Linked DNA regions of Homo sapiens: region 2 is linked to region 1. A link means that fine-mapping ties the variant in region 1 to the expression of a gene that starts in the linked region. Tissue or cell type: whole blood. Region 1 holds a variant in brackets; the other region holds the start of a gene. All regions are shown on one strand. Distances are between the middles of the regions.

Region 1 (5,810 bases):
ATTCTATAACCATTTGTTTTTCCCCAGACCAGAATTTATTACAGAATTCTCAAAGCTGACGGATCGGTGGCAGAATGCTGTCCAGGGTGTTCGGCAGAGGAAGGGTGACGTTGATGGGCTGGTGAGGCAGTGGCAAGATTTCACTACTTCTGTGGAGAACTTGTTTCGCTTCCTCACTGACACCAGCCACCTGCTATCTGCAGTGAAGGGCCAGGAGCGCTTCAGCCTCTACCAAACCAGAAGTCTGATCCATGAGCTGAAGGTAGTGTATGCATCGTAGCAGTGTGAGAACCACAGGGTGGTCATTGTTTGCAAGATGTTCATTCACCTTTGGTTTAATGTTTTTGATGATGATGTGATCCAAGTGGGCTCTCTGCAGTGTGAGGCCAGCAAGGTGCAGTCACCACCCCCCACAGCCCAGTCCCTAGCATTGTGGGGTTGGAAACCCGATATTACCCATTCATCCAGAAATACTAGGGTTCTCTTGGGCCATGAGAGGAGGCATGGAGTGGAGATGGGTGAATAAATTGGGGGAGGTTTAGGGCAACAGACTCAAACCACCCAGATTCTTAAGCCACTGACTAATGTATAAATTGACCATTAGTGTAGTAATGTACAGTGATGGCATTGTTTACTCTTGAAGGGCAAATTCAATGGGTACAAAAAAAATAGAATGAATAAGACCTACTATTTGATAGCACAGTAGGGTGACTATAGTCGATAATAATTTAATTATATATTTTTAAATAACTTAAGGAGTGTAATTGGATTATTTGTAACTCAAAGGATAAATGCTTGAGGGGATGGAAACCCCGTTCTCCATGATGTGCTTATTGGACATTGCATGCCTATATTTAAAAACCTCATGCACTCACAAAATTTTAAAAACTGATTTAAAAAAAATAAAAATAAAGGGGCAAATTCATTCAGCCAACAAAGCTTTCCAAAAGAAACTTGCCTGATGAGCACAGGATTAGCATAGGTGGTTGGCATGTCCCATGGAGCTGTAGAGCTACTCTCCACCTTAGAGAAGCCTCTCAACAAACACCACCCTCCTGAAATCCTGTACAGCCCTCACTCATTATGCAATCATCGCATATTAATTGAGTACCTTCTCTGTGCCAATCACTGTCCTAAGTGCTGGGTGTATTCTGTGGATGGAGAGAAGACCTTCGCTCTCATAAGGGCAGACAAAGTAGTAAACCAGAATAATTAATCAGATAAATTAATAAATAATAAAATATCAGATTGTAATAAGACTTACGTAGATCATTAAAACAGGGCCAGTAGAGATGGGGATGTGTGGCTCCTTTAGATTGGGTTGTCTCTGGCCATGTGACATTTAACCTGGGACTGAATGATGAGAAGGAGCCAGCCATGCAAGATCTAAGGAAAGAGCCTTTCAGACTGAAGGAGAGGCTTACTCCAAGTCCCCAAGATGAGAACAAGCTCAGCACAGAGGAACGGCAAAAAGGCCAGTGTGACTGGCGCAGAGCTGGCAAGGCAGTAGTGGCAGGAGGTGAACTAGAAAGGCGGGTAGGGAGGAGTGTTTTGCAGGTTGGGTGTGGCAGCTGGATTACCTGGTCTGGCTGGAACCAGGGAGCCTTTGAAGCATTTCAGCTGAGGGAGAGGGCAGCATGACACTGTTTGCTTGTTTTTCTTTTTTTTGGGACGGAGTCTCACTCTGTCGCCCAGGCTGGAGTGCAGTGTTGCGATCTTGGCTCACTGCAACCTCTGCCTCCCAGGTTGAAGCAATTCTCGTGTCTCAGCCTCCCAAGTAGCTGGGATTACAGGCGCCCGCCACCATGCCCAGCTAATTTTTGTGTTTTTAGTAGAGACAAGGTTTCACCCTGTTGGCCAGGCTGGTCTCGAACTCCTGACCTCAGGTGATCCACCCACCTCAGCTTCCCAAAGTGCTGGGATTACAGGCGTGAGCCACTGTGCCCAGCCCCATATTTTTTAAAGATCACTCTGGCTGTTCCTGATTGTAGGGGAGCTAAAGGAAAAGTAGGAATCCTAACATCTCACTTACCTATCGCTGCATAATGACACTCATCATTCTGTCTCGTCATTCTTGGGGTTGACAGGAGTTGGTGGTTCCTGCTTGGGGTCTCTCAGGCAGTTGCAGTCAGATGGTGGCTGGGGCTGGTGTCATCTGAAGCTCACTCACATGACTGATGCTTAGGCTGGAACAACTGGAGCAGCAAGGAGCTGGGACAGTGGAGCTCCTCTCCTTGGGCATCATTCTCTGTTGTGTTACCACGTGAGGGCTTCCAGTGGCCAGACTTCTTATATGGTACCCCAATGGTTTCAAAGATTCTTATCCCGAGAACAAGCTGTATTGCCCTATAAACCCAACCTCAGAAGTCACATATATCGCTTCTGCCACACTCTAACAATGAAGGCTATCATATGTGTCCACATGAGTTTGAGAGGAGGGGACAGAGGTGCCACAGTTTGATGAGAATTGGCTGAAATCCCAACACTTTGGGAGGCCGAGGTGGGAGGATCCCTTGAGCCCAGTTTGAGACCAGCCTGTGTACAACATAGTGAGACCCCTGTCTCTACAAAAAAATTCAAAATTTAGCCAGGTGTGGTGGTGCACGCCTGTACTCCCAGCTGCTCAGGAGGCTGAGGCAGGAGGGTCACACTTGAGCCCGGGAGGTTGAGGCTGCAACGAGCCATGGTCACAC[C/A]ACTGCACTCCAGCCTGGGTAACAGAGCAAGACCTGTCTGGAAAAAAAAAAAAAGGTTATCTTTGGAATTTCAGTGATCGCTGGAGGCAGTCATCTTGAAAGAGCCTATTTGGGTGTGGTTACATCTGGGTCTTCTTTTCTGCAATAAGATAATGAGGTAACAGGGAGGGAAAGAAAAAACAATCATTCTCCTTGGTGAGTCCGGGTCTTAGGCAGATAAAGGACTTCAGCTTCTGTAGGAGACGCAGTGCGTTAGGGTAGAGAGACCCTGAGACTTCTTCAGTTCAGCGTGTCAAAACACCGTATTTTGGAGTGTCGGTTTGTGAGTCTGGTAAAGGAAAAGCTAGATGAAGGACGACTCTGGGTTGAAGCTCAAGCATCTTGGTGAATAGTGTGCTGTTGACAGAGTTAGGGAAGACTAAGGGAGGAGCAGGTCTAATACGAGTGGCTCATTTGCGCAGCACAATATGTTGGAGAGATGCACGTGGAGTGCCTGTGGTCCAGTTGCTGTTTCTCTTATTTGTGTGCTGCTCCTGAGGGTGCATTTGGCTTTCCTCCTTTGGGTATGGGTGATCTTCAGGCTTCTCAGAAATGCCTTTGTAAATTAGTGATGCTCTGTTGATGTTTATCAGCTCCCATTTTGGAAAAATGCCCACACTTTGTCTCCTTCAAGAAATTTCAAGGTGAAGGAAATAATATTTATGTATTATTTATTTATTTACTTATTTTTTTAGAGATAGGTACTCACTCTGTCTCCCAGGCTGGAGTGCAGTGGCGTGATCATAGCTCACTGTAACCTCAAACTTCTGGTGAGGCTACCTCGGCCACCCGAGTAGCTGGGACCACAGGCACTCACCAGAATGCCCAGCCAGGAAAACATATTTAGAACAGACAAAAACTATTTAATTTTTCCTCTAAAACCAAATGCCTTTGGGAGTATGGATCAATTTTAAAGTTTTTACTTTATTTTTGTATTATAAATACCTAGTTTCAATCTCTTTAAAGAACGCCCATGTAGCCAGGTGTGGTGGCGCATCTCTTAAAAAACAGGACCTTCGCTACTCTCTGCACACTGCCTGCGGAGCGGCCCTGCTCTGCAGGAGCAGTCACGGAGCTGTAACACCGCCACTAAAATATAGAAAAAAATAAAAATAAACAAGACCTTGTCTCTTAAATTTTTTTTTTTTTTTTTCCTTGAGACAAAGCGTCACTCTGTCACCCAGGCTGGAGTGCAGTGGTGTGATCTTGGCTCACTGCAATCTCTGCCTCCCAGGTTAAAGTGATTCTTGGGACTCAGCCTCCCAAGTAGCTGGAATTACAGGCATCCACCACCATGCCTGGCTAATTTTTGTATTTTTAGTAGAGTCAGGGTTTCTCCATGTTGGCCAGGCTGGTCTCGAACCCCTGAGCTCAACTGATCTGCCTGTCTTGGCCTCCCAAAGTGCTGGGATTACAGGCATGAGCCATCACTTCGGGTCTAAAACTATTGTTTTTAAATTGTTTTTAATTTTCAGAAAGCCTACATGATATTCGGATGAAATTTTTTAAAGCTGCGCCTTTGGGGCACACATCAATGTACATGTTTATGTGCTCATAAAAAGCTTAAGAAATGTATATTTTTTGTATTTTACCCTTTCTCGCGTTCTTTCCTTTTACATTTGTTTAGCGTAATATAAGGTCTGTTACTTGATTTCAGGTCTGTTACTCCATTCACTTTCTTAATACTCTTAGATCCATTTACCTTGCAGGCTATTATTCTATGATGTATATTTTTTTATTTCTCTGTGCTGCTAATCATTACACTGAGAATCTTATCTCACCAATCTTTGGAAATTATTTTAAGAACACCTCACTTAGTGGTATGCTTATCTACTCAGTGTAAAACATTAGCTTTTGATGTGTGTGTGTATGTACATTCTGACCCAATTTGTCTAATTTATATCTAGTTTAACTCTTAAGAAAAGCTCTGAAGGAAATATACACAGGCACACACAATCACATTTTGAACACATCAGAAACCTAAGCAAATTACTTCTCTTTTTTTTCTTAGAATAAAGAAATTCATTTTCAAAGGAGGCGAACTACCTGTGCCCTAACCTTGGAAGCTGGAGAAAAGTTACTGCTCACAACTGACCTGAAAACTAAAGAGTCTGTGGGTAGGAGAATCAGTCAACTTCAGGACAGCTGGAAAGACATGGAGCCCCAGCTGGCAGAGATGATTAAGCAGTTCCAGAGCACTGTAGAGGTAAACTCACCACTTACTTTTCCATTCATGATATTCAAATTCAGTACATAGATTTTCATTTGTGGTGTGAAAATGGAAATGGTTTTAGGAAACTATAGTATCATGAGTTTCCAACTCAAGCTGTAATCTGTAAGTCATGCCAGTTACTTAATGTGAAATGATGATATAGCATTGCAAGAGCTCAATGTTTAGTATTTAAATACTTGAGATTCTATTAAGATACTTACTTTTATGAAACAGGAAACATATTCAATGAAAGTTCAATACATAAAACTAATGTTCCATGTATGGAACAGACAGAAACACTTCATTTTTCTGCTATCATCAGAGAATGCACTTTTCCATATAAGTGAATTTTCCAAATAATGTATGATTATACCTTTAAGAACTACAGTGTTATATTTTGAGTCACTGTTAGGAAAATCATTATTGTTTTGTTATGCTAAGATACCAAGTTGTTCTCAAGGCCTCTGAATTACTTTGAACCTGTGGCCCTCCCTGAACTACTGTGCTCTTTGAGTTCTGATATGGTTTTTATCATTTTTCTTTCTCTCCTCTTAATGTCAAACTGTCTATTTTTACTTTGTCTTTCTCCAAGCTCACTTACTTCTTATAGCCCACTCTCTCTAGTCTGTCGTGTGTGCCAAAACTAGATAACCAAACTTACCAGACATATTTTTCTGAATTAAGAGTAAATATATGCTGAGTTAGGGCTTGAAAATTTCTCCTGTGAATAAAGTATCTGAATTTTATTTGATATATGGACTATATGGAATTCATTAACTAGCAAACATTTGTTAAGCATCTGCCATGTTTGTGAAGCATAATGATAATTGCAAATAACAGTTTGAAGAACTCATGGTTTTGCTTCT
Region 2 (5,810 bases), 440 kb before region 1:
TGAACCTGGGAGGCAGAGGTTGCAGTGAGCCGAGACTGCACCACTGCACTCCAGCCTGGGCAACAGAGCGAGACTCCGTCAGGAGGCTTTCTTTCAGAACAACTAACCGAAAAATCATGCAAATTTAGAGTGAAAAAATGTAAAATAAGAAATTTAAAGCATTACAAGATTAATTTTAATGTAACTGGTCAGTTTGCACATCTGTAAAATGACAGTTTGAAACTAAGTGATTTCTAACATCCGGTCTACTTCAAAGTCTAAAATTCTATGATACGCAAATTTCTTAAACTTTGAGTTAAATATACTAGGTTGTTTAAAAACTAAATCTAAGCTTATTCTGATAATTCAAATAACCCTGAAATGTTAGAATATCAATATCCCATAAACGATTCAGCAGTACTGTTTTCAGACTTCCAGTTAGTATGTGTCCAGAACAAATAAAGAGCAAAAATAGCTATTTTCTCTTACTTTGACTGCTAATACTAATAGCATACAAAATAGCTACTCACTGAGAAGGCATCATAAAAGGCTCTATTGTTACAGAATCCTAAAAGTCTCACGAAAATAAGAGAAACATCATCAGCTAACATCACCAGGCCAAACACAGCTCATTGAAAATCTTAAATTCTGAAATATTTAGATTAAATGAAAACTTCGAGATATTTATCTGTTACGCAAAACAGGTAGCACTGCTTCACAATCTGAACATCACCGTATAGCTCCTTTGGTTAAACAGAAAAAAACTTCCCATGGTACTCTTTCCTCCTAATTCTGCCATTCTTACTATGCACAATGCGTATTTTCCATGTACTGTAAGAGAGATGCACTACACAGAAGTATCCATGGGGACGAAATTTTATCTACACTGAAATTTAATGTGGGATAAGTAAGCTTATCATAATGGAGTTTTACACAGAATGTGTATTTCTCAATGTAAAATGATTTTGTGAAGTAAAGGGGGAAAAAATAGAGGAAGTTTGTTTCCTTAGAATCTCCACAATTACGCACTTTATTCTTAAAATAAGGGACTGGTCTGCAGGATTAACAAATCTTACAGTTCAAAGACAGATAAACATTGGAAGGCCAAAAGAAGTAAGCAAAATAAAAACGATTACCATTAAAAACTCTTCCCTTGGCAGTTTTCAGAGAGGGTTAAAAAAAAAAAAAATTTTCCTGATTGTCAGGCTGACCCTGCTGTCATATTTGCCATTTTTATAAACCCACTAGTTTGATCAAGAGCCCTATCTTTAAGAATAACTTTTAAACCATGCATTTTTAGAGTTAATGAGGCAATAACACTATAGTATTACAGTTGTAGCTCAACAACTGTTAGATACTACAGATTAGTGATCCAGAAGATAATCAAACTTTATCAGCAAAGTAGCAACCACACCCCTTAAAAACAGAACTCACCCTGTGCTCCATTAACTTCCATAAAGGGAACTTCGATGAAAATCGATTACTTCATTGCTTGGAACTAGCATGTTTGTTTTGGAATTACACTAACGTTTTGTAAACACTGTCTCACGGTAAAGCTAATGACTTTACCTCTTTCTGAAACAGTTTTAGGGAAGAAGGCACCATATATTACGGTGAAACTGGGTCTTAGTTTACATAGCGATTATTTAAAAAATTCACTTCCACTGTGCATTACAAGAATTAAAGCCGTTTAAAAAACTCAACCAAAGCCCAATGACAATGTATTACTCTAGGAAAAGTGTGTCCTTTGGGTTCTAAGGCATTAAATTGGAATTTAATATTAAAATAGAATTCAACGGCTAAGTATCCAGTTTCCCCCAATCACTTAATTTTTCAAAACCCAGAAAGGGCCTGTTTGCGAGTATTGTGAAAACCTGTGGAAAGAGAGGCTTTGGAGGGGAACGGTCGAATTAAAATAAATGCAGAGAGCAAAGAGAACTCCGAGTTCTTTGAACTCCCCCAGGCTGAACAGGACGAGAAGGAACCCTACCTGCCAGCGGCCATAGGTGAGGAGGACCATAGAAATGGGGATGGCGGTGCCGGACATGGCATGGGTGGAGGGCATGCTGTACTCAGAGTTGTAGAAGACCTCCAACTTGACCACGGGCGGCGAGGCGGGCCTCGGCCAGCGGATGATGTCCTTGGTGCACTGGCCCAGGTACATGACCAGCACCCAGATGACCACGAGCCTCCGGCCCACCAGAGGGTCCAGGTTCCAGATCCAGAAGGGGAAGAACAGGATGTAGAAGAGTTCGTTGCCCAGCTCCGTGCCGAAGCAGAACAGGCAGTAGAGCGGCCAGTTGCTCACGCGGGCCAGCTGGCCCTCCTCGCCCGTCAGCGAGTTGCGGCGCAGAGCGCCCGCGCGCCGCGGCGAGGCCGGGCCCAGCTCGGCCGCCAGCCCGTTCCGCACGCCGTTGGGGGCGCCGCCGCCGTCCGGCTTGGCCGGGCACTGATTGCGGTCGCTCCCGGGAGGCTGGGGGCCTCCAGGCGCCCCTGGCTGCCGCCCTCGCAGTCGAGGGTCTCCGGCGAGAGGCGCCTCCGCTTTCTCATCCTCCCTCCGGTCTGCTGAGCGGCGCGGCGGCGCTTCCACCCCGCACAGCCGCTGGAAACGGGCCACTTTCTGCGGGTCCTGCAGACGGCCAACCAGCTGGGCCAGGCGCTGCCTCAGCGACATGATAACGGAACCCCCGGGAAGGCGGGCCGGCCTCCGGCGCAGCCCCGAACTGTCCCCGCGCTCCTGGCCAGCGGCAGCGGAACCGGCACAGCGCTCTACCCTCCGGAGTCTGCCGGGTGACGGCGCCACAGGCCGCGCGCCCCCGCCCCGCGCGCGCCGCGCCCCGCCCCGCCCAGCCCCGCCCCCACCCGGGCTCCCTGAGGGGCCGGGCCGCGCGGGTCCGCCCTGAGCGCATCCGGCCGTGGCTTGGCGCTGAGGATCGGCGGGCGGCCGCTTTGAGGTCCCGGGTAATATCCACCAGCAGGCGTCGCGGCGTACGTCTGGTGGGACGCGGCGTGTCCCCCTGCTCCACCTTCAGCCCTTCTTCTCCGCGGGCTAGTGTCGCCGGATTCCCTCAGCCAGAAGTTGACTTAAAGAGGCCACGATCCCGGTGCCAGCTTGCGCAATGCCTGTGACCAAGCAGCCGGGCATCCTGCTGGCACAGAACCAAATGGTGAATGATCAATGAAGGCGAAGCAACTACCATGAGTTCGGAATCATTCGACTCAAGTAATTAACAAGTAATTACAGAGCTGTCCCAGGCGACTGATGTTCGGAAAACCATGTGCCAATTGACCAGTGGTGACAAGACTACATGTAGATCCCAAGACAGGGCCAGGTGATATTAACAGGTGTGGTCTGCAAAAGAAAAGCCAGCCACCTACAAATTCAAAATACTGTGTCATTTATCAAATATTTTGGTATATGTTAAGGGAGCACAGGTGTTCTTAAGTGTAAAATTTCCTTTTCCTAGATTCTAATACCTAGAGGGCTTGCACAGAATAAATGTAGAGAATGAATGCAGTGTATAGATTTTTGAGTTTGGTAACGTTAATTTAGACGCTTAACTTCCGTGTCTCACAAGTTACCAACTTGACTTCTAGCTAGAGCAGTTTATAAGGTCTCTGAACTCCTCAGGTCAGGTGAATGTCTTTTATATATACCTAGAGAGAGAGAGATGAGACAGGGTCTCGCTATATTGCCCAGGCTGGTCTCCAACTCCTGGGCTGAAGTGATTCTCCTGCCTTGGCCTCTCAAAGTGCTGTGTTTACAGGCGTGAGCCACCACACCCGCCATGATCAGGTGAATGTCTGTAATTAAAGAATGTGAACTACTTCCAAGAAACAGGCTTGAAATTGTCCCATGCCCTTAAAACAGTAGAAATACTTTCCTTCAGGCGTGGTAGTTCATGCCTATAATCTCAGCACTTTGGGAGGTCGAGGAGGGAGGATGGCTTGAGTCCAGGAGTTTGACAACAGCCTGGGCAACATAGGGAGATCCCACCTCTACAAAAAATGAACAAAATTAGCCGGGCAGGGCTGGGCACAGTGGCTCACGCCTGTAACCCCAACACTTTGGGAGGCCAAGGCGGGCGGATCACCTGAGGTCGGGAGTTCAAGACCGGCCTGACCCACATGGAGAAACCCCGTCTCCACTAAAAATACAAAATTAGCCGGGCGGGGTGGTGCATGCCTGTAATCCCAGCTACTCGGAGGCTGAGGCAGGAGAATTGCTTGAACCAGGGAGGCAGAGGTTGCGGTGAGCCGAGATCGCGCCATTGCACTCCAGCCTGGGCAACAAGAGTGAAACTCTGTCTCAAAAAAAAAAAAAGAAAATTAACCGGGCATGGTGGCCCACACCTGTAGTCCCAGATAACTGGGGGACTGAGGCGGGAGGATTATTTAAGCCCGGGAGGTCAAGGCTGCGGTGAGCCCTGATTGTGCCATTGCAATTCCAGCCTGGGTAACAGAGTAAGACCCTATCTTAAAAAAAAAAAAAAAAAAAAAATTTCATTTCGCAGGGACAGGTACTCTCCTCCTCCCACTCCACTTGCTAGGCTGTGGCCATAGAAAGAGGAATAAATCATCACCCATGCTCTCAAGTTGTTCACAGTTTAGGGGAGATAAAGAAAGACAGGACTACTTCTAGAGTATAGAGAAGATGGCAAGTGTAAAACAGACATAAACAGCATGCCTCAGAAAGGAGGACAAGTTTGACTAGGAACAGGAAGAAAGGTGTTAGGAGGTGATCCTGTAGAGCTGGATTGTTTTACAGAGCAAAATATGAATAGGTGAAGAAGCCCATTTTAGGAAGAGAAAGTGAAGGAAGATAGGGATATGCAAAAATGTATTTGGTAAACAATAGTCCATAGAGACCAGGTGCAGTGGCTCACTCCTTTGATCCCAGCACTTTGGGAAGCTGAGGTGGGAGGATCACTTGAGGTCAGTAGTTTGACACCAGCCTAGGCAACATGGCAAGACCCTGACTCTACAAAAATATTTTCTAAAAAATTAGGTGGGGGGCTGGTGCAGTGGCTCATGCCTGTAATCCCAGCACTTTGGGAGGCCAAGGCTGGTGGATCACTTGAGGTCAGGAGTTTGAGACCAGCCTGGCCAACATGGTGAAACCCCATCTCTACTGAAAATACAAAAATTAGCCAGGCATGGTGGCAGGTGCCTGTAATCCCAGCTACACGGGAGGCTGAGGCAGGAGAATGGCTTGAACCTGGGAGGTGGCAGTTGCAGTGAGCCAACATTGTGCCTCTGCACTCCAGCCTGGGCAATAGAGCTAGACTCAGACTAAAAATAAAGAAAAATAAAAAAATTAGCTGAGTGTGATGGCACATGCCTGTAGCCCTAGCTACTTTTAAGGCTGAGGTGGGAGGATTGCTTGAGCCCAGGAGTTAGAGGTTACGGGGTGCTACGATTGTACCACTGCACTCCAGCCTGAGCAGCAGAGTAAGACCTTGTCTCAAACAGTAAAAATTAAAAAATGAAAAAAAAAACCAAAAAACAATAGCATATAGCATAGAGTAGCAAGGGTGATTGGAAATGGGATTACAAAGGGAGGATAGGATTAGGTTGTAAATCCTTGAATACCAAAGGGATTTAATTTTGTAGGCAGTGGGAGCCATGGAAGGCTTTTAGGCTAGGGAGTGACACCATCAGAACTGTGTTTTAGAAAGATAACTGGGAAAGAAATCAAAGACGATTGTCAGAGGTCAGAGAGTGAAGGCTAGGTAAATAATTAGAAGATTATTGCAGTCATCAGGTGAGAAACAATGACAGCCTGAACTAGGACCTTGGTTCTGGGGGATTGGAAGCGGGGGATAGATTTG

What was found. PIP is the estimated chance that this variant, and not a neighbour inherited with it, causes the effect.
Region 2: SGPP1 starts here. The variant in region 1 is fine-mapped to the expression of SGPP1 in whole blood (INTERVAL, PIP 0.90).

What each region holds. Positions count from the first base shown.
Region 1 is chr14:64,170,201-64,176,010 of GRCh38, forward strand. SYNE2 (spectrin repeat containing nuclear envelope protein 2) reads left to right here. Exons shown (of 116, transcript NM_182914.3): 94 at 28-262; 95 at 4,744-4,938. Among named protein-coding and RNA genes, the nearest start is that of MIR548H1, 78 kb to the left of the region's middle. The variant C/A (reference allele first, on the strand shown) is at 2,694.
Region 2 is chr14:63,725,292-63,731,101 of GRCh38, forward strand. It overlaps SGPP1 (sphingosine-1-phosphate phosphatase 1), which reads right to left and starts at 2,774. Exons shown (of 3, transcript NM_030791.4): 1 at 1,970-2,774. The coding sequence starts at 2,653. RefSeq lists enhancers at 1,920-2,421, 2,066-2,115, 3,076-3,265 and silencers at 2,376-2,475, 2,766-2,865.